Regions from separate parts of the Homo sapiens genome. Here regions 1, 2, 4, 5, 6 and 7 are each linked to region 3. The links come from fine-mapping of genetic effects on gene expression. A gene starts in region 3. Each other region holds a variant in brackets. All regions are shown on one strand. Distances are from middle to middle. Region 1 overlaps LOC124902205 (a long non-coding RNA gene). Region 2 has its middle 20 kb from the start of GADD45G. Region 3 holds the start of S1PR3 (sphingosine-1-phosphate receptor 3). Region 4 holds the start of MIR4289 (microRNA 4289). Region 5 has its middle 40 kb from the start of S1PR3. Region 6 overlaps LOC124902205 (a long non-coding RNA gene). Region 7 has its middle 69 kb from the start of MIR4289.

The links. PIP is the estimated chance that this variant, and not a neighbour inherited with it, causes the effect.
Region 1: its variant is fine-mapped to the expression of S1PR3 in whole blood (TOPMed, PIP above 0.99).
Region 2: its variant is fine-mapped to the expression of S1PR3 in pancreatic islets (PISA, PIP 0.95).
Region 4: its variant is fine-mapped to the expression of S1PR3 in fibroblasts (GTEx, PIP above 0.99).
Region 5: its variant is fine-mapped to the expression of S1PR3 in whole blood (TOPMed, PIP above 0.99).
Region 6: its variant is fine-mapped to the expression of S1PR3 in whole blood (INTERVAL, PIP 0.95).
Region 7: its variant is fine-mapped to the expression of S1PR3 in sun-exposed skin (GTEx, PIP above 0.99).

Annotation. Positions count from the first base shown.
Region 1 is chr9:88,871,020-88,875,087 of GRCh38, reverse strand. All of the region lies in intron 1 of LOC124902205 (a long non-coding RNA gene), which reads right to left. Among named protein-coding and RNA genes, the nearest start is that of S1PR3, 120 kb to the left of the region's middle. The variant C/T (reference allele first, on the strand shown) is at 2,235.
Region 2 is chr9:89,582,971-89,587,038 of GRCh38, reverse strand. No RefSeq gene overlaps it. Among named protein-coding and RNA genes, the nearest start is that of GADD45G, 20 kb to the left of the region's middle. The variant G/TG (reference allele first, on the strand shown) is at 1,871.
Region 3 is chr9:88,989,543-88,993,610 of GRCh38, reverse strand. S1PR3 (sphingosine-1-phosphate receptor 3) reads right to left here and starts at 2,143. Exons shown (of 2, transcript NM_005226.4): 1 at 1,916-2,143. RefSeq lists a silencer at 2,303-2,597.
Region 4 is chr9:88,744,193-88,748,260 of GRCh38, reverse strand. It overlaps MIR4289 (microRNA 4289), which reads left to right and starts at 2,356; the gene lies at 2,356-2,425. RefSeq lists a silencer at 253-547 and an enhancer at 444-1,132. The variant G/T (reference allele first, on the strand shown) is at 1,631.
Region 5 is chr9:88,949,771-88,953,838 of GRCh38, reverse strand. No RefSeq gene overlaps it. Among named protein-coding and RNA genes, the nearest start is that of S1PR3, 40 kb to the left of the region's middle. The variant C/A (reference allele first, on the strand shown) is at 2,000.
Region 6 is chr9:88,855,131-88,859,198 of GRCh38, reverse strand. All of the region lies in intron 1 of LOC124902205 (a long non-coding RNA gene), which reads right to left. Among named protein-coding and RNA genes, the nearest start is that of MIR4289, 110 kb to the right of the region's middle. The variant C/T (reference allele first, on the strand shown) is at 1,987.
Region 7 is chr9:88,812,390-88,816,457 of GRCh38, reverse strand. No RefSeq gene overlaps it. Among named protein-coding and RNA genes, the nearest start is that of MIR4289, 69 kb to the right of the region's middle. The variant G/C (reference allele first, on the strand shown) is at 1,878.

The DNA of each region.
Region 1 (4,068 bases), 120 kb after region 3:
ACAGGCATGAGCCACCGCGCCCAGCCAATAAAGTTGATTTTTAAAAAATGTTTCAGGCTCCTGCTTAACCCACAAACTTTAAAACATTAGGAGATCTGTTACTTTTTAGGTGAAATTGGAGAACACAGCCTTCTCTGGAGTCATTGGTATTTGAGGACTTGAAACAGGGAGTACTCATTTTCAGGGCACTTTCAAGATTGTAGAATATTTTGCACAGTATTTCCCTGAGGCAAACAAGATTTCAGTCTGTGAATAGGTTTCAGTGTTTGCTTTGGTTCTTTTCAACACAAGTTTACTCTAAAAAGTAAAGCTCTTTTCCCCCAAAAGTGAATAGTGCCATGACACATTACACTCTCCAAGGAGACTGGTCCTTTCGGCAGACACTCTTTGGAGAGCCACAGTCTCTTAGTCATAGTGACAACTTCTCCCATCCTCAATAATGGCCCTGCACTTATGTGCAGAGACGCCAGGTGGCCATCAGTAACACATGAACTTCCAGTTTCTCCTGCCCAGGAAAGATAATCATATTTACAGGGGTGATCCTTCACATATTCTAAAGCCACTCCTTTGCTGTGACTGCCTGATACTGTGGTATGTGGCTGAGCCACCGAGTGAGTGTAATTGGCTTAGCACGGTGCCAACAGAGCCAAGGTCACAGGCGGGTCAAGGTCAGGCGAGGGGAGGAGATGGGGAGATGGCCGCAGCACAATTTGACCCCTTTCACTGTTCATGTGTCAGCGCTGAAAGCAAACAGCAAATTAATTCCTCAAGTACTTGTATTGTCTAATTAGAAAGAAAATAGCAGTTTTGGGGGCCATAACTTCTGCCTAATTCCAAAGTTCTCAAGTCACTCATGAAGTGATAGTGGCAATGCATATTTATCCATGTTGCCCACGTTTGAACGTATGTTAAAGAATGAAAATCATAACTGTCATCCCCCAAAAGCTTTGAGAAACAGAAAACTCTTCATCCTTGAACCTGCCATCCTGAATGGTCCCTCTTTCTCTTCTGGAATGTAAGAGACTCCCTGCCTCTCGGGCTCTCCAGGGAAAACTGTGTGAGCCTGGAGTCCCTGATCACTGCACCGATCAGACTCCCCTTCCTCGGCAGCTCCTGGTCCTCCTGAGAAGCGCATTTGCATGGCCAGGACAAGGAGAATGAAGCAGGGCCGGTGGGGCTCTCTGCTCCCTCGGGACTAGCAGTGAGAATGCACACCCCGCAAGCACAAGGGTCCTCAGGTGCATGATGCAGCTGGACAGACCCCTCCTGGCAACAGCGTGAGTGCTTCATGAAGATCCGCCCCGGGGCAGGAGCCCAAGAGCCAAGAGCTGCCCAGATGAGGCTGTGACCATGCCAGGAGAACGACCTCTCATAGGTGCTCCATCTCAACAGTGTTTCTAATCAAAACATGAAAAAGGATTATAGATTGGGGAAGAAGAGTAATTCCAGACACACCGGCTCTGCTTTCCCCTCTCCCACAGGAAACTGGGATTTGCCAGTGTATGTCCTCTCTCTCTTTCTCTCTCTCACTCTCTCTCTCTGTCACTCTTTCTCTCCTTTGCTTTTCTGCTTTCTGTCTCTTTCTCTCTGTCTCTGTCTTTCTCTCACTCTCTCACTTTGTCTCTCTGTGTCTCTCTCTCTGTCTCTCATTCTGCCTCGCTGCTCTGTCTCTGTCTCTTTCTGCCTCTCTCCCTCCCTTTCTTCTTCTTTCTTCTTTCTTCCTTCTTCTTCCTTCTTCTTCTTCCTCTTCTTCTTCTTTCTTCTTCCTCTTTCTCTCTCTCTCTCTCTCTCTATCTCTCTCCCCCTCTCTCTCTCTTTGTTTCACTCTCCCACTCTCTGTCTCTTGAATCTTGGTGACTGCCTTAGATGGGGTGGGGTGGAATGCAGTAGAAGCGATGCTGTGTGGCCTCCAGAGCTGGATCACAGCAGGAGACACTCAAGTCAGCCTGGTCCTCTCGGTTCTCTCTCTCTCTCTCTCTCTCTCTCTCTCTCTCTCTCTCTCTCTCTCTCCCCACACCGCTATCTGCTTTTGACTCTTTCTCAGTGTCTTCCTCTCCCTCTCTCTCCATCTGCCTCTCTCTCTTCCTCTCTTCTTCCCTTCTTTCTTCTCTCTGCCTCTCTCTTTGACTCTTTCTCTCTCTCCTTCCCTCTCTGTCTCTTTCTTTTTCTCTCTCTCCCTCTCTCTTTCTCCTTGACTCTTCTATGTCACTCCCTCCCTCCCTTTATTTCTCCCT[C/T]TCTTCTTTATTTCTGTCTCTCTTTCTCTCTGTCTTCTCTCTGGGAACTGTAGGTTCCATTTAGACATGGACAGCTCAGATAAGGGGGTGTGGAAGAAAGTAATGAAAGGTCACAGAGGACTTGGAGCAGAACCAGCTTTGAAAGACCAAATTCCAGGCCTGAGAATGTCGCATTGTATTAGTGCAAGGTTGGTAACAAGAAATTAGCGCTGAAGGTTGAAAGAGTGGATGGGGGGAGATGGAGAAAAGGAAAATGCACATAGATGGTTTTCATACTTTTAACTTCTTTGCTTGACTTAAACATATTGTTTCCCTAAAGAGGAGTGCCCCCTTCCCTCAAAAAATAAAAGAAGTTTAGTGTTGGGCAGTCCCTTATTTTTGTGTGGCCTTGAGTGTGTGGACAGGATGAAAGTGCAGCTTTAATGACAAGGACTGGCCCTGGAATGCTGACAGGAATAATGACTGAGCAGCAACTTAGTTTTCCACATCAGAGCAGGATTTATATTCCATTCACCAACCCTCAGAGGAATTTCCCCTGTCTCTGATTTGGCCTTGTGAATTTTCCGGCTCATAATATCTCTAAGCAGAAGCAAATGTCTGGAGGGGGGAAGCCTGGTTGACAAAGAGAAGCAGCTCTTTGTCTCTCACTGCAGTTTTAAAAAACCCCACAGATTCCTAGTTTCATGGGCACGACTGCATTTTCATCAAAACCAGGGGCTGGGAACAGGGTGGGCGTTGAGTAGCTGGGTTCTTCCTTCAAAGAAGGTCCATTTAGGGACTTGGCTATGGCCGGGCAGTGGGGGACAAAACAGGCCTCACAAAAGTCCTTCCTGGGAGGAGAGACCAGAGATGAGCTAAGCTCAGTTCCTTGTTTCCTCTGGAACATTCCTCTGGAATGGCGACAGGGTGCTGCTTGAGGGGCAACTCACAGCTGGGCAGTGTGACCCTTGCCGTCCATGCCAGCGAAGCAATAACCTCTTCAGATGTCCCCAGCCAGTGCCCCGAGGATCCCATGCTGCAGCGGACACAGCGCTGGGCTGCAGGGGAGGGCTTGGTTCCCAGTGGCCTCACCCCCTAGAGGCCATCAGCATCGCACAGCTTCTCCACTTGGGGGTGACCACTGAGATCTGTGACTCCACCTGAAGGTAGAGAAATACATTTTTAAAATGACAAAATAGGCCAGGCAAGGTGGCTTACACCTGTAATGCCAGCACTTTCGGAAGCCAACTTGGGTGGATCACCTGAGGTCAGGAGTTTGAGACCACCCTGGCCAACATGGCGAAACACTGTCTCTACCAAAAATACAAAAATTATCCAGGCATAGTGGTGGGCACCTGTAACCCCAGCTACTCGGGCGGCTGAACAGGAGAATCGCTTGAACCTGGGAGGCGGAGGTTGCAGTGAGCCAAGATCACACCACTGCACTCTAGCCTGGGCAGCAGAGCAAGATTCCATCTCCAAAAATAAATGAATAAAATACGAATGACAAAATATCTATATTTAATTCATCATTATGATGATCGAACACTCATTAGTAGCTCCTGCTATGGATCATGCTCTTTGAAGGCAAAAAGTACAAAATATGGTCCCTGCCTCAAACTGCTTATGTGTGTTTGGAGAGGGGCTACGCACATTTAAAAAGGATGAAACAAATGGTAGCATCTTAGGGTTGCTCAACTCAAGTTATTCTTATTAGATGTGTATATACATATATACCTCCCAGTTTTGCATATATAAATAACATCTCACACTGGAAGTGAAGTGAGAGATTGGAAAGTCTTTCCCCAAGTCTTTCCCTAACTCTTTAAATAAGTTATTTGACAATATGAACTTT
Region 2 (4,068 bases), 590 kb before region 3:
GACCAGCCTGGCCAACATAGTGAAACCCTGTCTCTACTAAAAATACAAAAAATTAGCCGTGCATGGTGGTAGGCACCTGTAATCCCAGCTACTCGGGAAGCTGAGGCAGGAGAATCTCTTGAACCCAGGAGGCGGAGGTTGCGGTGAGCATAGATCTCGCCATTGCACTCCAACCCGGGCGGCGACAGTGCGAAACTCTGACTCAAAAGAAAAGAAAAAAAGAAAAAGAAAAAAAAAGTGTTCTGCTGTCGTTGGGTGGATGTTCTGTCAATTAAAGGAAATTGGTTGATAGTATTGTTCAAATCTCCTGTATCTTCACTGAACTTCTGCCTAATTATCCTATCAATCATTTGAAAGAGGTTATTGAACTCTTCAAATCCAATTGTGGATTTGCTTATGTCTCCATGAAGTTCTTCGGGTTTTTGCTTCTTATATTTTGAAGCTCTATTATTATACACAAAAATGTTTAGGATTGTTGTGTCTCCTTGGTGATTGACCCCTTCTTCACTGTGAAATTTTTCCTGGCCACATGCCTTGCTCTAAAAGCCATGTTTTTGTTAACAGAGCCACTCCAGCATTGTTTTGATTAGTGTAAACACAGTATATCTTTCCTTGTCTTTTACATTTAAAACATTTATGTTTATATATTTAAAGTATGTTTCTTTTAGGCAGAAAATAGACATGTGTCTTGTTTTTTTTAATCCAATCTGACAATCTGCCTTTTCTTTTCTTTTTTTTCTTTTATTTTAGATTCAAGGGTACATGTACAAGTTTGTTACCTGGGTATATTTCATGATGCTGAGGTTTGGGGTATGAATGACACCATCACCAAGACACTGAACATAGTACCCAATAGTTAGTTTTTCAACCCTTGCCCCTGTCCCACCCTCTAATAGTCCCCATTGCCTATTTTTCCCATCTTTATGTCCACAGGTACCCAATATTTAGCTTCCACTTCTAAGTGAGAACATGCAATCTTTGGTTTTCTGTTTCTGTATTAATTTGCTTAGGATAACGGCCTCCAGCTGCATCCATGTTTCTGCAAAGGACATTATTTTGTTCTGTTTCACGGCTGCATAGTATTCCATGGTATATACGTACCACATTTTATTTATCCAGTCCACCATTGACGAGCACCTGTGTTGATTCCATGTCTTTGCTATTGTGAATAGTGCCGAGATGAACATGCAAACACATGTGTCTTTTTAGTAGAATGATTTATTTTCTTTGGGATATATATCCAGTAATGGGATTGCTGGGCCAAACGGTAGCTCTGTTTTCTTTGAGGAGAAATCTCCAAACTTCTTTTCACAGTGACTGAACTACTTTACATTCCTACCAACGTGTATGAGAATGCCCTTTACTCTGCAGCCTCCACAGCATCTGTGATTTTTTGACTTTTTAACAATAGCCATTCTGACTAGTACGAGATGTTATCTGATTGTGGTTTTGATTTGCATTTCTCTAATGATTAGTGATGTGGCTGGGCCACTTATCTGTCTTCTTTTGAGAAGTGTCTGTTAATGTCTTTGCCCATTTTCAAATAAGGTTATTTGGGTTTTGCTTGTTGAACTAAGTTCCTTATAGATATTAGACCTTGGTTGGATGCATAGTTTGGCAATTTTTTCTCCCATTCCATAGTTGTCTGTTTATTCTGTTGATAATTTCTTTTTCTTTTTCTTTTTCTTTTTTTTTGTTTGTTTGTTTGAGATGGAGTCTTGCACTGTTGCCCAGCTGGAGTGCAGTGGTGCAATCTTGGCTCACTGCAGCCTCCGCCTCCCAGGTTCAAGCAATTCTTCTGCTTCAGCCTCTCGAGTAGCTGGGATTACAGGCACCTGCCACCACGCCTAGTTAATTTTTTTTTTTTTTT[G/TG]GATTTTTAGTAGAGACGGGGTTTCACTATGTTGGCCAGGCTGGTCTTGAACTCCTGACCTCACTGTCCACCCGCCTCAGCCTCCCACAGTGCTGGGATTACAGGCATAAGCCACCACAACTGGCAGATAATTTCTTTTGCTGTGCAGAAGCTCTTTAGTTTGATTAGGTCCCTCTTGTCAGTTTTTGGTTTTGTTGCAATTGCTTTTGGGGACTTAGCCATAAATTCTTTGTCAGACAGTATTTCCTAGGTTGAGAAGGGTATTGTCCAGGTTTTCTTCTAGGATTTTTATAGTTTGAGGTCTTACATCTAAATCTTTAATCCCTCTTTAATCCCTCTTTAATCTTAATCTAAATCCCTCTTTAATCTTAATTTTTGTATATGGTGAAAGTTAGCTTTGTATACTTTATATAGGGGTCCAGTCTTATTCTTCTGCATATTTTATATAGGAGTCCAGTTTCTTTCTTTATATGTGGGTCCAGTTTCATTCTCTGCATTCTTCCAGTACCATGCTGTGTTGGTTACTGTAGCCTTGTAGTATAGTTTGAAGTTGGGTAATATGATGCCTCTGGCTTTGTTCTTTTTGCTTTGGATTGCTGTAGGTATTCGGGCTCTTTTTTGATTCCTTGTGAATTTTAGAAGAGTTTTTTCTAGTTCTATGAAAAATGATGTTGGTTTGATAGGAATAGCATTGAATCTGTAGATTGCTTTGGGCAGTGTAGCCATTTAAATGATATTGATTCTTCCAATCCACGAGCATGAGCATGGAATGTTTTTCCATTTGTTTTTGTCATCTGTTGTTTCTTTCTGCAATGTTTTGTAGTTCTCCTTGTAGAGATCTTTCACCTCCTTGGTTAGATATATTCTTGAGTATTTTTTGTTTGTGTGCCTATTGTAGATAGAATTGCATTCTTGATTTTGCTCTCAGCTTGAATGTTACTGGTTTATAGTAATGCTATTGATTTTTGTACATTAATTTTGTGTCCTGAAACTTTGCGTAAGTCATTTATCAGCTTTAGCAGCCTTTTGGTGGAGTCTAGGGTTTTCTAGGTGTAGAATTATATAACCCATGAAGAGAGATAGTTTGGCTTCTTCTTTTCCTATTTGGATGCCTTTTATTTCTTTCTCTTGCCTGATTGCTCTTGCTAGTGTTTCTAGTACTATGATAAATAGAATCTGCCTTTTCATTGGCTTGTTTAGACCACATACATTTAATGGGGTTATTGCTATGATTAGGTTTAAATTTATTGTGTACTATTTGTTTTCTATTTGCCCCAAGTTCTTTATTTCCATTTTCACTTTTTGCTGCCTTCTTCTGGATTAATTAGTTGGATTCCCTTCTTTTTCAGCTTTGTTGTTGTTGTGTTGTCGTGTTGTTGTTGTTGTTATTGTTTTAGTGATTGCCATAGGGTTTATAGTATCTGTCTTCAAACTGTTAGTCTTTCTTCAAGTGATATTATACCACTGCATGTATTCTGTAAGAGCCATAAGATAGTATACTTCCATTTCTCTCATCCAGGGCTTTATGCTATATTTGTCACACATTTTACTCATACATACATTATAAATCCTACACTGCCCTATCATTTTTGTTTATACAATTACTTTTAAGGAAATTTAAATCATAGGAAAAAGGTCTTAGAGTTGCTATAAAGTTACCTTAGCTCTTCAGTTCTTAGATCCAGTTTCCCATCTGGGGTCATTTTCCTTCTGCCTCAAAGACTTCTTTTAACATTTTTGGCAGTGTCATTCTGCTGGTCAGAACTGTCTTGCTTTTGTATGTCTGATAACGTGTGTATTTCACCTTCAGTTTTGAAGGATGTTTTCTCTGGGCATGGAATTCTAGGTTGAAGGTTTGGGTTTTGCTCTGCGCTTTAAAGGGGCAGCTCCACCATGTTCTCTCGTGTCCTTCCCAGTGAGAAATCTGCTCTTGTTCTGCATCTGTTCCTTTGTGCTGCTTCTCTGGTTGCTTTTAAGATTAGATTATGATGTGCCTTGATTCATTTTCCTCATTTTTCTTGTGTTTGGGTTTTATTGAACTTTATGGAGTGGTAGATTTATACTCTTCATCAAATTTGGATATTTTTCAGTCATAATCTCTTTAGATAGTCTGTCTGTCTACATGGATGTCTTTAGATAGTCTGTCCATCTACTATAGTCATGTCCATATACATGGCAATCATGTATAGTTGTCCCAT
Region 3 (4,068 bases):
TAATTTGGCAGAAAACATATGGCAGAGGAATAATAGGAAATGCCTCCAAAACTGATAAGAAAGGAATTACAAAGCCAAATATGAAGAAACAGAAAGTTTCATAGAACCCACAGCACAGCACCCTGGTTCCAGCTAAGGTAAACAGACTGCATAAGGCTGGCGGCCTGGCTCTGGTAACACTTGGGAAACAGTACAAAGTCCTGGCAGTTAAAGGGTTCTACAGCAGGGCAACCTCAGATTTTTCAAGATTGTGGCATGCTCAAATTCTCCTTTTTTTGGTAATAAAAATATACCTACAGTATATAATAAAAATATACATACAGCACAGGCATTGAGGAAGATGAAAGAGATACCATGAAATCAAGTTAATGTCATAATTTCCAGAAAGAGGAAACCAGTTCCTGAATTTTGAGAAATAAGATCCTTCGGCCACTATGTGAAGTTTCTTCTATAGGAAACTGTAGTCTCTACCCTTTGTATATGGTAGAAAATCAGAGACTCATGCATTTGAATAAAAATCACAATGATAAAGGGAGAAATGGCACTTTCAAAGATGAAAACTGGTTGAGAAATCATTCTCTCTAAATCTTAGGGGGAGGCTCTTAAGGGCTAGCTTCAGTTTGTATCTCTGGTGTTAGGTGATGGAAGTGATTTCAGAGGCCCAAAGTGAGTGCTTACTGGTTTGCTAATGAAAAAAGCCTGACGTGCGGTTCTTCTTCTATGGCAACAAAGTTATTCAACCTAGCATTAAGGTCTGCATCCATGAAATAATACTTTACAGATATGAACACTTCCACAACTCCTCAAGCGCACACACACACACACACACACATGCCCCGCACCATCACCACCTCCTCAACCAACACCAGCCCTGGGCATGGCCAGCTATCCTTGTTAGTCATGTATCTGCAGAGCATAATCCTTCCCTTGTACTTTCTAGGAATTATATTTTTCTTAACTATGCCTGCAAGATTTTCATCTATGAATAAAAAACATTGAAAAGATAAATTATGAATATGTGGTTATATACAAAGTCTGTGACTTCTAATGTCCAGATTTTAGAATGATGCCTAATTCTGGAGGTCTCAGAGGTCCAAGTGGGAGTGGGTACCATGAATGGGGGGGCCTCCATTTAAAAGTAACCTTCTAAAGAGCTCTCTGTTCCTGTAGCTCCCCTTTCCTTATTGGAAGGGTCAAAACGAAGTGTGTTCCCTTAAAAATCCAACAAGAAGTTCCTCTCTTATATCCAAATATAAAAACACCACAAAGAAATATACCATTGGGAGTGTCCAAAGCCAGAAAGTCAGAGGAAGAGAGAGAGAGAGAGAGAGAGAGAGACTGACTATTGGGAGACTCAAAAAGCCCAAAGCCCCTTCTCTAGCTGTTATCTCAGTTACGAACACAACGTACTGATTTTCCGTGGGAACCTCATTATTGCACTGTGGGGACTTCGTCTTCCAGCACCGATTCTGACGGCCCTAATTGCCTTGTTTGAGAAATGTTAGGAAAAAACTAATTTTCCGGCGAATATTGTTTAAAAGAATGATTTTCCCAGGCTAACGACCACAACCCTCTCCCACGTCCAGCATCCCCAGGCCCTGGCACTGTGGAAGCCTAACTTGTTAATTGTCCAAGGAAAACGACTGATGGAACTTCTCCACGAACAGCCTCTCCACTTTCATCCAGGTATTCAGCTCCAGCCCGTTGTAAACGCTCCGGGTGCGGTGGAAAAGGCCTCCTCCCTGTTCCTGCAGCGGCTCTGGGGGAGGGGTGCTGATGTGGAGCGCTCCGGCCGCCGTGGCGCGCCCAAGTCCCCGTCGCGCCCGGGATCGGTGGGGATTTTGTTGGAAAGGTGGGTCCTTCGGCCCCCAGCCCCCCACCCTGGTTCCGCGCCCCGCCCGGGCCCGCCTCTCACCTCCGTCGGCTGAGGGCGCTGGGGCCACCGGCATCCTAGCGGGTGGCGCGCGGCGGTGCCGGGGCGCCCGGTCCTGCGCTCGAATGCCAGATGGGCTGGGAGGCCCGGCAGTCTCAGCGCTCGCGACGTCGTTCCCGGGCCTGGGGTCCTGCTCGGTCGCGTCCTGCAGCCGCCTTCTGGTCCCTGAGTCCCTGTTGCCCGTCCCCGGAACCGGCTTCCTCGGCCTCTGCCCGAGCGAGTCAGAGACTAAACTTTTCCAGCGGCCCGCCGGGGCGGGACCCGCGCTCCGCCCCTCCCCTCGCCGCCCCCGACTCCCGCCCCTCTCCCCGCCCCCCTCTCCCCGTCCCCCGCCCGCGAACCCGGCACTCCTCCAGCTCCCCACCTCCCGCTCAAGCCGCCTGGTCTCCGTGCGCCCCGCCCGCCCCTAGCCTGGACCCCTTCTCCCCGACCCTACCAATCCCCTAGGGTCCGGCTCGCCCTTCGGCCCCTGTTCCCAGGCCGGCCTCCAGACCTTGTCCTCATCGGGCGAGCTCCAGGTGCAGAAACCGGGCGCCCAGAGACCCAGCGGGAACAGGCTTGGAACCAGGTCCGAGGTCTGGGCTTGGGCGGGCGCCTGTCGCCCTGACAGCGAGGGTTTGTTTGGGCCGATTCTTAATAGGAGGATTAATACTATCATTATCGTTGTCCAGATCCTGACCATTTCTTTTGTAACTGGCCGAGCACCGGCTTGGGCTTGCAGGTGGGCGCCTGGCGCCGGACAGCGTTTTTGTTTGGGCTTCTTCCTTTTCCGCGCGGGTCCCCTCCGGCGCCTGCCTGGTCCCTCTCCGCGCTCTACCCCCAGGCACGCAGAGACTTGGGCTCCAGGCGGGGGCAGCACTCTCCCCCAGCCTCTGCTGGTGCACCAGAGCCCACTCCGGCACAGAGCAGCGCCCCTCCTAGACCGGCAGCCAGCAGATCTCAGCCGACCCCCATGCGACCCCCTTCCTCACGCGGATTTGCCCCTTTTGTGTGGCAAAAATAATAATAATAATAATAAATCCATATGAAGGCTTCAAACAGAATTCCGAGAGAAGGAACTGCCAAATTTTCAATCAATGCCAAAGGCCATGATTGAGCGAACACAGAAACAACTGTAGAAGCTTGGGGAGAAAGGAGAAAATTAAAGAAAAAGGAGGAGGAGGAAAAGGAGAGAGGAGAGAAGCGGGAGGAAGAAGACGAAAAAGCAAGGAGAGGCCTGTTATCCGACCGTGCATTCCTGGGCCGGCAGGATTGGGCCGCAGGGGCCGCTGCAGAGAGTTGAGTTTGTGCAAAGGCCGCTCGTTACTTTCTGTCTTTTGCCCTCTTGCCTCCAGAGGATCAGCCCAGCGCATCCTTCTCTTGGAGCAGGGTGCATACGCTTATTTGGGGTGCAGTTTGAGCGGTGAAGGGCACCAAGAGTGGAAGTCGGCGGCACTCCTGTTCCCTGCAGAGAAACGCAAGCCCTCAGCAATTGAGCTGAAGGAGGCAAGTGACTCTGCCTGCTGAGGCTGCCAGCCCTAGAGGCTCTGGCCCCCGGGAGCTGGGGTACTTCCCAGCGTTTTCGCCTAAGCCACTTCGCCTGTGCTACTGTGGAGTCTTCCGGCACTGTAGCCTTCCAACTTGTTCAAAGTGCCTGGTGCACGGCTCTGAGAAGCCACTTCTGTCCCAAGTTTCATGTGGGCCTGAATGTGCTTCCCTTTGTTGGACTCCTACAGCATCAAGTCAAGAAAAGAAGGAAACATGCTCCTTTGGCATTGGTCACAACCAGGATAACAATACAGCATACTGTGGCCACTGTGTCTATATTACCAAAGTGGTCAGTAGGTTCATCACACCTCTGTTCAATTAGTTGCTTCCCGTGATGAAAAATTTACTGCTAGGATACTGGCTGAGGGTTGTTTTAAGGGGCACCCAAGTCTCCGTTCCTAGAGAAAGTCAGTTACCCTGATATAACAGAGCAACCTTGAGGCGTGGTGATGCCTCCAAAACTAGTCTGCGGAATCGGAGCCCAGAAGCCCTGAGGAGTAATGTGGCTCTCATGCTTTATGGCAGGTTTCCCTAAGAGAGACCCAGGATCTGACCCATGGCATCACTGAAATTCCTCTTTCAGTGAGGCTCCGTTTGCCTAAAGATCC
Region 4 (4,068 bases), 250 kb after region 3:
GTACTGTATGTTGAAAATGTGCTAAGAGAGTAGAACTGAAGTGTCCTCACACACACAAAAATAATGGTAACCATGTGAGGCAGTGGAAGTGCTGATTAGCTTCATCTTGGCCGTCACTTCATGATATGCACATGCATCAAATCATCACATTGTACAATTAACTGTATACAAGCTTTATTTGTCAATTACATCTCAATAAAGCCAGGGGGTGGAGTCGGGAGGGAGGAACTTCTGTCTTGCTCTAGGTTTATGCAGTATCTTGTAAAGACAGCATGAGTCATCATCACTATCTGGCCCAGCCAAGTACTCTGGGGCCCTTTGTGCTGCAAATCGGTTCACACACACCAACCAGTGTCTTCTCATGATGCACAGCTGGAAGTAATTTCTTTTTAAGCTTTAAAAAAATTCAAGACACAGCTTATCCTTGGTGTCCACCCGCAGGTAGTCAGGCCCTGAGAACATGTCACCTGTGGGCAAACGCTAACTTTCCCAAGACCAGGATTAAGTGTTGAGTGGGAGGTGAGGCCTTTGTCCTGCCCCTCTCTCCCTGTGTGGACCGACTGACCAACCCGCCAAAACACTTTGAGAGCCACTAGACATAGTAGCTTACTTCTTCTCATGCAGATATTCCTTGGAGGAGCCTGGTGTATTTATTTTAAGAGTTGCTTTCAGAAACAGAGGACCTCTCTTCTGTTTCACAAAATACATGTCACAGAGAAGAACAAACCCACCCATGGCCAGCCTCTGGCTGTGTAATTGCTACTCTGCACAATAGGAAATGAGTGGCCACGGCACAGGTAGCCCATTTGGGAGTCGCCTAGAGCCCTGTCCCTACAAAGAAATTATAACGTAGCAAAAAACCAGAGGCTCCCTTCCTTGAATATCCAGGCTTAGGCCTAGAGCACGGAAACAAGACCAGTGTAATTACCTCGCATGCATAATCACTGCTGAGACCTGAGAACAGAGGCCGGGCCCTGCCTGGCCTTCGGCTGTCTGGCCATAAGCAAGCAGCCACTGAAACCAGGCAGCTGGGGTGCAGGGTGTTTGTGTGTGTGAAATGGCTCTGCTGCCCCGAAGCAAGGAGCAGGGAGATGGCTTTTCCCTGTGTGGCTTACCTGGGTCAGAATCAACAAGCAGGAGCATAAAACAGAGATCAGACCCCAGGAGGAAATGACAGCCAGGCCCACTTTGTGTGCACGAGTGAGGGTAGGCATGGGGAAGATTCCTGTTTGCTTGTCCCTTTTAAAAAAGCAAAACCGGCACAAGACTGTGGTCAGGAGCTCAGTATACAGGAAGGGGCCGAAGTCTGACAGCCTTCCTCAGAGCCCCGGGTGGCCTGGGGAGGAAGGCATGCTGCCCTGAGACTGCTGTGCAGGGATCCCTGGAATTCTCCTCCAGCATTAGCTGTGGTAGAAGGGACTTTTCTATTTTGTGATTCAATCTTTTAGTTAGATTGCTTGGGGGACTTGATACTAGGAAAATTTTAATGGTTTTACCTAAACAAGGGATAACCTTGTTTTGGAAGCTTATGATATGGAGGAAAGAGTTAACTGTAAAATCGGCAGGCCTGGGGAAAACAAAACCAACCAAGCAGTAGCCAGGGTGGGTGCAGGGCTGTAGCCAGAGCTCC[G/T]GGCTGCCCCACGGCACTCCCACTGCGTCAGGGAAGCCTTTTCTGGCCTCCTAGTTAGGAGGCATCTCCTATTACACACTCTTGGAGCATTTTGTAATTCTTCTGAGAGTTTATTACCCTAGCCAATGAATAATTGTGGAATTACTCAATGTTGTCTCCCCCTCTGGAACATGATACAAATGTCAGCTCCATGCCTGACTTGTTTGTTGCGGGATTCCCTGCGCCTAGACTAGTGCTTTGCACATGCAAGGAGCTCATATTCATTGAATAACTGGATGGGAGGGTGGATGGGTGGGTGCATGGATAAGAATGAATGGTTGGATAGGTGGATGGACAGATTGAACAGACAGGCAGGTGGATGGATAGATGGATAGAAAGATGGATGAATATAGATGGAGATAGATGGGTAGATGGATGAATGGGCATGTGGGTAAATGATTGCAGAAATGCATAAATGAATGAGTAGATAGATGAATGGGTGGGTGAAGTGGATGGGTAGATGAATGGATGAGTGGATGGGTGGATGGGTGGATGGATGGATGGATGGAGCCCACAAGGTCATTAAAGCATTTTGTTCTCTAACTTCTGAACTGAACTCCACTGGTTGTCTATAATAAGAGCTTTTACAGAGGGAGGTTGAACACCCAAGCATGTTGGACATGAGTGACAGCAGCTAGCATGGTATCTCTGCCCTAGATGCACTGATGGCAGCAGAGAGCTCTGTCCCTTGGGAGGGCATTGTGCAGGGCTATCAGGCAGTTTCCTGGGCCCTGTCTGCAGAGCCTAAACAGATCACATCTGGCCAGTCTCAACAGGGCCTCCTTACCCTATAAACCATGCATGTATTTATGTAACACTTCAGGCCTGATGGAGACCAGATGTGACCAAATGGTGCTTTATGCGGCCCAGGAATGCTGAAATACCAACATAGACATCTTTTATGGCTGCTCTTGCTCAGCAATCTCTCTTTAAATCTTAGGTTTGAGCCCTGATATACAACCATTAACTTCATTCTTCTGTGAAACAGAAACATCTGGCAACATCTATTTGATTTGTTATCCTTATAAGAGAAATACAACTATGTACAACTTCTATTCTCAGTTAGTGTAGTACAGTAAAAAGAATGTTGATGGGGAGGCAAGAAACCCAGACCCAGCTCCGCCCTGTACCTCCCTTACTGGCTGGCCTTGGGCCAGTTGGTTCTCACCAGGACTCAGTTTTCCATTGGTAATTTCAAGAGCTATCATTTATTAAACACTTCCTGAGTTCTAGGCACCCTACCTTGTGCTCAGTAAAAGCTACAGATCATTGCCACAACTACACCCCTATTCAAATGTACAAATGGATACATAGGCGTGAGTTTCCAATACCCATCATCCTTAGGAGGCAGATCCCAGTCTCAGTCTTCTGACTCCAAAACCACCTCTTCCCATTAAACCAAATGGCGGCTTTCACCTGCAAATAAGGAAGTGCAGCTGAATTGCTATTTTCTGAATTTGTGTTCCTTGGACACTTCTGTTGGGAGCGACTAATAAGTCTTTTGACCCCTCTCCAAAGAATGTGTGTTTAGGGACACTGAGGAAGTGTCCCTGAACACACATTTGGGATTTTGGATGCCCACAGAACATTACAGATGCTACAAGAATTTAAGCCTGTTTACTGTGGGGTTTCCTCATTGGGCCGCTAGAATGCCTTTGTCCCCTGAAACTCCTATTAATATCTTGAGGATCACTGATGCACATTCATACAAAAATGTTGATTGAATAGGTTTCATGCTCCTGGCAGGACAGGCTGTGTCTCTGCACTCAGGGAGCAGCCACCTTACTGACCCAGGTGCAGCTCAGCCCTGATTGCCCCTTCTATACTTTCCTGTTTATACAGAGCTCCTCCCTTCTCCCTCCATGGATGTATTTACAATGTAGAGATGCTGTTAATACTGTCGGCTGCTGCTACTTGAGAAAGCTCACCACACACTTTCCATGGGGATTGGGAATGGAGTTGAGCAGCCCCATTTAGTTTCACCAAGAGTAGTGGGACCTTGTGTACTTGTTTTAAAGTCTCACTCCCTGAAAGGGCCAGAACTGGATTCTGAGTGACATCTACCCAGTGCAATTTCTCCATTGAATAGAAAGAAATGTGCAAAACATTCTAATTATGCTTTTACAACAAGCTTTTTAAGAAAAATTACATTGCAAAGACCCAATCAGTGCAAAACTTGCCCTGAAGTTCCTTACAGTTTAAAATCACCATATCCCCTCTGCCCCTTCAGCTTCCTTCTGCAATTTAGGGTGCTCGTGACGCAGAAGGGTTAGGGGCTGCAGGAGGTCCACGTGCTTTGGCTCTGATCACAGACTGCAGCTGTAGCTTCATCTCTGTCTCTGCTCTACTTAAGGACAGCTGCCCTCAGAATGCCAGGCTGGAACATCTAAATTCTACTA
Region 5 (4,068 bases), 40 kb after region 3:
AGGCTTTAATCCCTGTCTCCCAGGGAGCCAGAATGTTGTCTCCAAAAATTCAACTCTATGACCACTTTCACTTTCAAACTCTCTAACACAGAAGGTCCATTGTTCAACTTTCTGGGCAGAGTTTAGTTCTCAGATGAGTTTAGTAGAAGCTCCAAGCACAAGGCCCAGTGTCCATTTTCCCTAAGCACAAAGGCCGATTCCTGCCCCTGGGAGAAAGGAGGGCCAGACCTGGAACTGCCCCACTCTGGGGAAATTGCTCTCATTCCTTCCTAAAGAGTCCACGCAGCAAGGGCAGCATCCTTAATGCAACACAAGCCTGTTTCCTGTTCTGACAGAGGCCAGAAATCCCACGAAGTCAGAATGAGACATCGCTGGGCAGGACTCACATCCCTCATTCCCTCTGATGTGTAGCAGATGACGGACTGTGGGTCCCTAATGTTGTGGTTAATCTGTGGGTGAAGCTGAACACTGAGCGACACAATTTGCTCCCACTGTTCCCGACTCACCAGATGAAAGTGGTTAGTTATGAGTGTGGAACTGGGTGGTGTATCTACCCTCAAGGGCTGCTCTTGTGTGGCCCCCACCACACTGTCCAGGGCACCTCTGTCCTCTGCAGGCAGGTCCCTATCTCCCGATGCCCACTGATCCCACTGACTCAGCACTGTGGGCTTACAGGGCATCCCTTAGAGGGGCCAGGTGAGGTGAGAGCTGCCCTGAGCAGAGTGGCTGGTGCATTGAAGGGATGTGTGCAGCAGCCTGGTGCAGAGTGGAGGGGAACTGTGGGCACCAGACCCACCAGGAGGAGGCTGAATAGGGCTGGGTCACAACTTCAGTCTGCTTGATGTGAATGGGGCGCTGTTAAATGCAGGTTCTCAGGCTCTGGCTCCCAAACTTTGAATTTGGTGGTCTTAGGAGTAGCTTTTTATTTGTGTTTTAAATTAATATTCCCAGGTGGTGTATGCACAATGCCCTGAGAAGCAAGAGCTTCTTATGTTTTTTGGGGGGACAAAGGAATGGATACTTTATTGTGCAACCTCACCCTGGTGGGAGAGCTGAGGGATTCCTTTGTACTCCATGCCCACTCCATCCTGGTGTGGTGGTGAAGACAGCGGGAAATGAGAAGGAGCTTGCTTGTGCCTTCCTGCTCTTTTCTATGAAAGGCTGGCACTAACAACCCGATCTTTTCTTGGGTGCCCCTCTTTTGGGTTCTGAGTACCATCAAGCAATGCAATGGCCTGTGATGGTTCACCCAATCCCCAATCTATGAGGACCATGGGTGCTTAAAAATTTATCCTGATAGGACAATGGCTCTCAAAGTGTGGCCCCAGGATCAGCAGGGCCAGCATCAGCTAAGAATTGCAAATTCTTGGATCCCACCCTAGATCTGCTGAGTCAGAGTCTCTGGGGTAGGGCATTTTTAAAAGTCCCCCAGGGGATTCAGCTGTATGAGAACCACTGCAATAAAGAATAATACGTTTTGCACCAATACAGACCAGCTGTATTCAGCTCATGTTTGCCATGGGGAAATTCAGCTCATGTTTGCCAACACCAGAATTGGTGGCCTTGTTCCACCACCATTTTGATGCCCATTTTCCAGGGAAACCAGAAGGCATCCCATCTCTCTGTCTCTTTCCAAGCTGGCTTGTCTCCTGCCAGAAACTTTCTCTGACCTCCTTCTCCAAGGCTGGGTGATGAAGGCCTCGTCTCAGCTCCCAGGGCTCCTTCTCTCACTAGCAGACCCCAGAAAGCAAGCCCCATGCATCATAGCACAGGCCAGGAACAAGGTGATGACCCTCCCATGATGGTCTTCATGATGACCATGAAGTTGGCCAAATATCACTGCTGGCAACATTGCTTGACTTCTACCCATAGAAAGGTGCTGGGTATTAGTCAGGGTCCTCTAGAGGAGCAGAACCAATAGGATGCGTGTGTGTGTGTGTGTGTGTGTGTGTGTGTGTGTGTGTGTAGACAGAGATACTGATTTATTTTAAGGAACTGG[C/A]TCATGTGATAGTGAAGGCTGACAAGTACAAAATCTGCAGGGCAGGCCAGCAGGTTGGAGACCAGGGAAGAGTGGAAGACTTGATGCTTCAGCTGGAGTCCAAAGGCAAAGGCAGTCTGGGGGCAGAATTCCCTCCTCCTAGGGAGAGGTCGGTTTTCCCCTAAGGCCTTCAACTGACTGCATGAGATCCACCCACATTACAGAAAGGAACCTGCTTCACTCAAAATCTACTGGTTGAAATGTTAATCAACTCTTAAAAATACAGCAGGTGTTTGACCAAACATGTGGGCACCATAGTCTAGCCAAGCCACCACATAAAGTTAACCATCACATCAGTGACACCATGGGAGCAACACAACTGTGCAGCTATCTGGAGAAGTGTTAGGTGGGAGACATTGTTAAACTGCGTTGGATGCATGTATCTGCTCAAGGACATGCACATGTACACACATGTCTGCACATGCATTCACAATCACATGTGCACATGCACAGATACACACACATGCACACACACACAATGCATGGATCACAGCATGAGGCAATGACCACACAACAGTGCCCATGAGGTGAAATCATTAAACTGAGGTCTTGATTTGACCATCCTCCAAACACACATTTTTCTATGTAACACAAAGCAGGTCAAAAGCCATTCTGCATCTGCCCAGAGCCCATCTCCCAGAGGCCAGGTCTGTAACTCACAACCCAAGGACTTTTACTGGTTTCTGTTTGATCCTCCTCTCTAGGAAACTAGCCCTTAATGCATGAGGAATGAAATTCTCACTATCTGCAGCTAATCAAGCCATGTTTGTTATCCCTAGCTAGTATGACTCATTAATTTTCTGCCATGGTGTTTACCTCACAAAAAGTATTCTAAGTAATCCGTGCCTGCCGTGAAGAGTTTAAATGCAGTATTTTGACTTTTAGTGGACAGTGACGTCTTTTTACCGCAATCCATTTCTCTCCATTCTTAAAAACAATGGGGATAAAAATCGAAGTGTTTGAAGAGCTACTCCTTAAATACTCTGACTCACACTGGACGATCTCACTGGTGTGTGCTTCTTGCAGGCAAAATAATAGACGAGTCTTCGTTTTCCTGGGCTTTTAAATTCATGATGTTTTCAATAATTTTAAACTTATGACAGTGAGCACATTTAAGTGAAAGTTTTTGAAACTGTTTTTGTCTTGTTTGCCTTTGTCTGTGATGTGTTTATACAGGACTGTTTCACAACTATGCTATTGTGAAAGACATGAACAATGAAGATGTGTGAACAAGCTCTCATGGCCCAGGGGATTATAGCTGTGCATGAAGTAGTGAGTGGAGGAGGGGGCCAGCCCAACCCTAAGCAGGGGCTGCAGGCAGCCCTGCGGACTTTGCTGGAAAGCCTGAGCCTCTCTGGGAACAGGGCACATCTCTTGAGCAGAGTCAGGTCATGGAGCGGCTCTGGTTGGGGAGGAAGGGGCAGCTCCAGCTGCTAAGCTTGGCTGAGAAGATGCCACTGGCCATTCTAGGGCAAGTATGCCAAATGCTTCTGTGAGCAAATGCCTTTGCTTTTGGTTGCTTTCATCAAAGTTTCAAAGAGATCTGTGACCCTCTTCGTTTGGGTGTTTGGCTGGAGTGTGATGAAGGTGTGACTGCAGGGCCTTGTGGTGGAGGCAGGAGTGTGTAAACAGCCCCACTGGGTGTGGATGATGCATGAAGATTCTCAGTTGCTAGTTGAGTCACCAGGTTGGTGGCTGGAAGCTTCTTCAGAACTGGGCAAAAACAGTAATGAGATTGATTCCCAGCTTTTATTGGCCTAATGAGCTGGCACTAATTTGGACATGCCACTTCACACTCAAGTTTGCATATCTATAAAATTGAAAGGGGGCAAAGTAATCCCTTAATAGTAGGCATTTTAACATGGACACACTCGGGTGCACAGAGTGCCAAAGTGTTGGCCAGGCATGTTTGCAATATGAAAGTTTGAACTAGATTTCTCTTGGGGAATTCATATACACATTATAAAATACATGGTGTATTTATATGAGCACTGGGGAAAGAAGTGACAAGAGATTTGTGGAGTGTAGGT
Region 6 (4,068 bases), 130 kb after region 3:
AGTATTGGCTGTAATACCTCCTGTTCCTTTTCTAATTGAGCTTATTAGGATCATCTCTTTTCTTTTCTTGGTCAATCTCATTAACAGTCTATCAATTTTATTTATCTTTTAAAAGAGCCAGTTTTTTGTTTCATTAATCTTTGTATTTTTTTGTTTCAATTTCATTTCATATAGTTCTGCTCTGATCTTGGTTATTTCTTTTCTTCTGCTGGGTTTGAGGTTGGTTTGTTCTTGTTTTTCTAGTTCCTTGATGTGTGACCTTAGATTGTCTGTATTCTTTCAGACTTTTTGATGTAGGCATTTAATGCTACAAACTTACCTCTTAGCACTGCCTTTGCTGTATCCCAGAGGTTTTGATAGTTGTGTCACTATTATTGCTCAGTTCAAAGAATTTTTTAACTTCCATCTTGATTTTATTGTTAACTCAGTGATCATTCAGGAGCAGGTTATTGGTTTCTGTGTAGTTGCATGGTTTTGAGAGTTTCTTTTGGAGTTGATTTCTAATTTTATTCCACTGTAGTCTGAGAAAGTACTTGGTATAATTTCAATTTTCTCAAATTTATTGAGACTTGTTTTGTGGCCTATCATATTATCTACCTTGGAGAATATTTCATAAATAGAAGGTATATTCTGCAGCTATTTGATAGAATGTTCTATAAATATCTGTTAAGTTCATTTGTTCCAGGATATAGTTTAAGTTCATCATTTCTTTGTTGACTTTCTATCTTGATACCTGTCTAGTGTTGTCAGTGGAGTATTGAAGTCCCCCACTATTATTGTGTTGCGGTCTATCTCATTTCTTGGGTCTAGTAGTAATTGTTTTGTAAATCTGGGAGCTCCAGTGTCAGGTGCACATATATTTAGGATTGTGATATTTTCCTGCTGGACTAGTCCTTTTATCATTACACAAGATCCCTCTTTGTCTTTTTTAACTGCTGTTGCTTTAAAGTCTGTTTTGTTTGATATAAGAATAGTTACTTCTGCTTGCTTTTGGTGTCCATTTGCATGGAATAGCTTTTTCCAACCCTTTACCTTAAGTTTATGTGAGTCCTTATGTGTTAGGTGAGTCTCTTGAAAATAGCAGATAATTGGTTGTTGAATTCTTATCCATTCTGCCATTCTGTATCTTTTAAGTGGAGTATTTAGGCCATTTACATTTAACATTAGTATTGAGATGTGAGGTACTATGCTATTAATTGTGCTATTTGTTGCCTGAATACCTTGGGTTTTTCATTGTGTTTTTCTTTTATAAGTCCTGTGAGATTTATGCTGTAAAGATGTTCTATTTTGGTGTATTTTAGGATTTGTTTCAAGATTTAGAGGTCCTTTTAGCAGTTCTTGTAGTGCTGGCTTGGTAGTGGTGAATTATCTTCACATTTGTTTGCTTGAAAATGACTGTATTTTTCCTTCATTATGAAGCTTAGTTTCACTGAATACAAAATTCCTGGCTGATAATTGTTCTGTTTAAGGAGGCTAAAGGCAGGATCCCAATCTCTTCTAGCTTGTAGAGTTTCTGCTGAGAAATCTGCTGTTAGTCTGATAGAGCTTCCTTTATAAGTTACCTGATGTTTTTGCCTCACAGCTCTTAAGATTCTTTCCTTCATCTTTATTTTAGATAACCTGATGACTGTGTGCCTAGGCGATCATCTTTTTGCAGTGAGTTTCCCAGGTGTTCTTTGAGCTTCCTGTATTTGGATGTCTAAATCTCTAGCAATGCTGGGGAAGTTTTCATCTATTATTCCCTCAAATATGTTTTCCAAAATTTTAGATTTCTCTTCTTCCTCGGGAAAACAATTATTCTTAGGTTCGGCCATTTAACATAGTCCCAATCTTCTTGGAGGCTTTGTTCATTTTTTATTGTTGTTTTTTTTTTCCTTGTCTTTGTTGGATTGGATTAATTCAAAAGCCTTGCCTTTGAGCTCTGAAGTTCTTTCTTCTACTTTTTGATTCTATTGCTGAGAGTTTCCAGTGCATTTTGCAATTCTC[C/T]AAGTGTGTTCTTCATTTCCAAAAGTTGTGATTTTTTTTAATTTATGCTATCTATTTCACTAAAGATTTTCCCATTTATATCCTGTATTTTCTTTTTGATTTCTTTCAGTTGGACTTCACCTTTCTCTGGTGCCTCCTTAATTGGCTTAATAGTCAACCTTCTAATTCTTTTTCTGGCAATTCTGAGATTTTTGTCTTGATGTTTTGGGGGTGTTAAAACCTTGTTTTGTCATATTACCAGAATTGTTTTTCCAGCTCTTTCTCATTTTGGCAGACTATGTCAGAGGGAAGATCTGTGACTCAAGTGTTGCTGTTCAGATTCTTTTGTCCCACAGGGTGCTCCCTTGATATGGTGCTCTTCCCCTTCTTCTAGGAATGGGGTTTCCTGACAGCCTAACTGCAGCCATTGTTATTTCTCCACTGGATCTAGCCACCCAATAGAACTACCAGGCTCTGGATTGGTACTGAGGAGGGAGTGTCTGCAAAGAGTCCTGTGATGTGATCCATCTTTAGCTCTCTCAGCTATGGATACCAGCACCTGGTGGAGGTAGCTGGGGAGTGAAGTGGACTCTGTGAGGGTATGTGGTTGTATTTTTGTTTAGTGCACTGGTTTTGTGTTCGTTGGCCTCCAGCCAGGGCGTGGCACTTTCAAGAGCACATCAGAATTCCACAGCTGTCCCATGGAGCCTGCAGCAGCAACCCACCTCCTTCAAAGGGTCTTTGGATTCTCTCAGCATTCCTGGTATGTTCCTGTGGCAGGTCTTGGAGCAAAATTTCACAATGTGTGTCTCCACACACTGCTCTGTCCATCTGAGTGGGAGTTGAAAGTTAGTCTTGCCTCCTCTCTGCCATTTTCTCTCCCAGACAGTTCTGGAGACTAGATGTCCAAGATCAAGGTGCCAGCTGGTTTAGAGTCTGATAATAGCCCAGTCTCTGCTTCCAAGCTCCCAAGATTTCTTATTTTATAATTTCCTTTATGTTTAACCCATTTCCCTTTAGAAAAAAAAATGCAGCTCACTGCCAGCACTCATTTAATTTTACATGCTCTTTGAGGCTGAGTCAAATCTGACTGATTTTCAATGTGAAAATGAAATATAAAAACTGTTTTTGCAGTTACTTCTAAACAGAACTTGTCTCTAATACTAATGTAACAGAAATGTCTATGATGTCACGTTAGGATTAGAGAGAAGAGTATTCTCAGGGCAAAGAGGAAATGGGTTAAATAACTTCCTTTAGTTATTCTTTTGGGGTTGGTCTGTTGGCAGCAGATTCCCTTAGGTTTTCTTCATTTGAGAGTGTCCTGATTTCCCCTTCATCCTTAAAAGATATAATATTCTGTACTAACAATTCTGTTCTTTCTGCGCTTACAAAATGTTGTGACCCTTCCTTCTTGCCTCCTTGGTTTCTAATGGAAAACTCATTGTCATTTAGACTGTCTTTCCTCTGTAGGTAAGACATCCTTTCTCTTTTGCTGCTTTCAATATTTTTTCTTTGTTTCTTTGTTTCTAGTTTTCAGAAGCTTTAGTATGATGTGTCCTGGTGTTGATCTCGTTTGGAGTTTATTTCACTTCTTGAATCTGTAGTTTAAGTCTTTTGCCAAATTTGGTATATTTTCAGCCATTACTTATTTGAATACATATTTGTTCCTGCAGCATTTCTATTCTTACACTCTTATTACAGACTATGAGGATAGAAATTCAATTTCCTGGCATGGTGGCCACTGACAGCATGGAAGCAGGAGGTGTCTTACTGTTGGGCGGGGATGAAAGTCTTGACTCTTAACTCCAGCTGCTCTGATACCAACCAGGATGAAGAAATTGGGGATAGGGGTGTTTGGAACACCTTGTTACTTCATGAGGTTAGGAGTTTGGGGTCCTTGGCCTTTGCTGGTGTAGGTGGGGATGGGATCAAGTGTTTTCTGTGTTTTTTGATTGGAATTGAGCAATTACAGTCTAAAAGTTTAATATCTTGTGAGGCTGCTCCTTTTCTGGTGTTTTGGCTAGCAAGAGTAGGTTTTTGTTTGGACTATTTTTGTCTGAACTTGTTGGCATCATTGTACTGCCAACTTTGCCAACATCCATT
Region 7 (4,068 bases), 180 kb after region 3:
CCGATGCAGAGACCAACACAGCAGGAAATTCCACAGTAGACCACACTCCATGAAGATGGAGTGTCTGCCTCAACCCAACCCAGGGACTGACCACAGGGAGCCGGCAAGAGAGTCAGTCATCAGTCATGATGCACGGCGCTCTACCGAGGAGTCAAAGGCAGGAAATGAGAATAGACTGGAGGTCGGTGAAGCGCTTTGTCAGTGGCCAGGAAAGCAACAACCAGCTCCCACGCAAGGCTCTGGGACAACTTGAGCTCCTGCCTCACTCTCTCCAGGCCTCCCCTACACTACTTGTATTTTGGGACCAGCATGCTCGGAATATCTGGTATGACGAAGATGGGGCAGAGAGAGTGAGAGAAAGAGAGACCCAGGCCTAAATTTCTCCACTCGTTACAGGTGTGGAAAGTGAAGGAGGCTGCCCAGGAGATGTTTCATGAGTTCTGACTTTATGGCACATCACCTGGGAGGCGATAGCAGATGGCCCAGTACTAGTCCCAGCTTTGGAGCAGGCAGATCAGAAATGCCCTTCCCCCGGGATACCTAGGAAGAAGATGGGCCAGGAAGGCTGCAGAGTCCTTTCTCCCCTAAGTGACCTGCTGGAAATGCTCAGCAATTCTTGTTAGAACAACAGATCTCGTGCACATCCATAGAAACATGCATTTGTGCAAACAGAATCCCTTCTGCTTTGGTGCACAACCTTTTGCACAAATTCACGCTTTTGAGCAGACACTCCGCTTCTGGGGCAGGAGTACGTCACTGTATCAGTCTTTCATTTTCTCTTCTGGCATCTGAATACTCTCATTTCTTCTTAATTTTCCACCAGTTTTTCCTCTCGTTTGCTACTGATCTGCCTGGCTCTCCTTTATACCGCATCTGAGCACCCTGCACATGCCTCTTGAAAGTGAATGAGTGCCTTAATTGGAAAATGCTCTCTCATTCACCACAGGGAAGAGAAGAATACTCCAGCTAATAATGTCTTTTCCACAGAGCCCTCGACCAAATGACTCTCTCTGTTTTAATTGAGAGCCAAAGCTTTTGAAAATGAATATGTATCTTCAGGGATGGATAAAGAATGCAGTTTGATCTTATGGAAATGTCACGTTGGGATGTGAAGGTGATGGATTGTTCAAGAATCAACCAAAGAGGACAGCTCTGGCCCAGGCTGCTGAGGGACAACCGAGCTCAGATGATGCCCCCAGAGAGCAGTGGGATAACTGGGGAGGGACCACATGGTGGTTGCCAATGAGTCTCGATAGGTAGAAAAAAGGACTGAAATGAAGGCAGCAGCTAAGGACAAGGTGACAGTCTGTGACTTTGAATGGCATGCTATTTCCAACAAGCATCCCAAAGCAGAAATAAACATGGTTGGAAGGGGAGTGCAGAACATGAAATATCTACTGAGAGCTGAGGGCCACACCAGGGTGGTTAGGAGGGGAAAGAAGAAGAAACTTCAGGAATAAAAGCATTTTAAGTCTCTTAGCAACTGCCTATAGATGGAGACACGCTGGGTGGAGGCTGTCACAGGGCTTCTTGCGGGGTGTCCACCCCTCTGTTGGCCTCCTTGGACACCACTGCCCTGAAAAGGAGGGGAAAGTGCATTTCTCAAGCTGAAGCCCTGGCCAGGGCCTCTAATTTTACTTCCATGAGTGTGCCCTGATTGATTTTGAAAGGGAGGAGGTGGATCATAAAAAAACACAGCCCACAGCCGAGCCATAATCAGCTGCAGCTGCTGCTGGGATAGAGTCCTGACAGGCAAATGGCATCATGATGGAGCATTCCTTGGGACTGGCAACATTCGGCTGCCAGTGTGGGGGCAGGGAGGCAGTCTATTATTAGGAACATGCCTGAGATGTGAGTTTGCAGAATTCATTGCTCTA[G/C]ATTAAAATCACTTTTGCAGGGAACAAACTCTGGAGATGGTGGAGGTACGTAGACTTCCTCTCAGCTTGAAAGATGTATCAAACTTTAAGAGGGGCTTGGACCACCCATTTGCAAATTGCTTTTTCATGCAGTTAATTTTATTTATTTTTCATCCAAATCTTAAAGCAGACCCCTCCTTTAAAAGTGTATGGCCAGCCGCGCTGGCTCATGCCTGTAATCCCAGCACTTTGAAAGGCCAAGATGGGTGGATCACCTGAAGTCAGGAATTGGAGACCAGCCTGACCAATGTGGTGAAACCCTGTCTCTACTAAAAATACAAAAATTAGCCAGGTGTTGTGGCGGGCACCTGTAATCCCAGCTACTCGGGAAGCTGAGGCAAGAGAATTGCTTGAACCCAGGAGTTGGAGGTTGCACTGAGCCAAGATCATGCCATTGCACTCCATCCTGGGCAACAAGAGTGAAACTCCAGCTCAAAAAAAAAAAAAAAAAAAAGTATATGGCCAATAGATCAACAGAAAGTGCCCTAAAGTAAAGGACTGTTTACATAAATGACTAAGGCACATAGGGACCCTGGAGGCTCTGACCTTGACCTGGGTCTGAGTGGGGAAACCCCACACGCTCATTTCTTAGCGTTTCTGCACGCATGTTTTGCTTATTAAAGAGAATTATAAATCCCATGCTTTCTAAATCTTTTGATGGAAAGCAATTTTCTTCCCAGAGATGAAAAGATGTTAACATGAAGGCGCTGCTTGGAAAACAGGGCACAGGACTGGCTGCATTTCAAACGAGGTGCCGGAGCTTATGCAACATTTACAACGGAATTCATTAAAAATTGGTTTTGCTCTCTGAGGACCTGTTGGAGCATCTAGGCCTCATGTGGGGGAGGCTGGGAGACTCTGTGAAAAGGATTATTTGGAGGGTGTATCGAAGCCCCCTGTAGGTGTGGAAGGTGTTTTCCCTTTTAGCTCAAGTCAAGAGCTCATCCTGCCCGCTTCCGTGTGAGGAACTGCTTCCTGTGGCTGTTAAGATCATGGGGAATGGGAGACCCACTGTGCTGGGAGTGATGCCCTGTCAGAGCCGGCTGCAGCTCAGGGTGCAGGAGGCCTGATGGGATGTGGGCCTGGTGTGGGAGGTAGCAGCATCAAAGGCCAGCTCAGCTCCCTCCACCTCTGGCTCCCTGAGTAAGCGACCCGCAGAAGTGAACCCGACTGCAGGTGAAGGGGCTGCGGTCACAGACCCTCCCCGCCCACCCAGTGAGAGGGGAGCTTGGCAAGCCAGAATGCACTATGAGAGGGTCAGCAGGAGGCCCTTCCTGGGCCCAGAAGGCAGGTCCTCAGGGCTCTCCTCCTCCTGTGGTCCCTCCTCCAAACCTTCATGTGGAGCAGTGAGCTCTCAGCCATAAGTGGAGAGGCCCTGGACAACAGGAGAGACCAGGCTCAGACAGACTGACTGGCCCTGAACTGGCCTGCCCGCCCACATGTGCCTGCAGGGGACGCTCAATTCAGGTCAACACAGGATTCAACACAAATGACCAAATTGAGACTATATTCTAAGACTGTGTTTTGATGGCTTGAGTAGACAGAATACTTCCATCAAGAGTTTTTTTTAAAAATAGTAAGAGAAGTATAAGGCCTGCTGCATTGCCGTCCCCGGGGAAGAGAAATATTCCCTCCACTGAAGACTTTCTTAGAGAGACAAAGAGAGTATTTTCTGATTGTGCCACGCAAGTCTAAACCAGCTAAAGTGCAGGTATGCGGATTTTATTTCTTATTAGCAACAAACAGTTTGATGATACGCCAAAGACAAAGAGGAGGAGTTGGAGATACTTCCATGAGCAATGCAAATTTAGAAAACCCAACAATGGAAACCAGAAACAGAAAGAGAAAAAAAAAACACTCAAAATAGGAAACAGAGAGGGAACAGGCCAGCACCTGGTTGGGGCCCCGCACTGGACAGGATTCAGGGTGGACTGTCCTTACCTGTTTTTCACTATCTGTCTTCATTCCTCCATTCAGAACACCCTCTGCTTCATTTGGATGGGCAATTGTCTTGGAGTAATTTTCTATGAAAAAGGGTGTGTTTTCCGTATTGAATCCCCAGGATCATGGTTTATGATGCTGGCATTGCAAGTCCCTGTGGCTCTTCAGATGCTGTGAGTGCCAATCACAGATCCACAGACTTTTCAGGCTT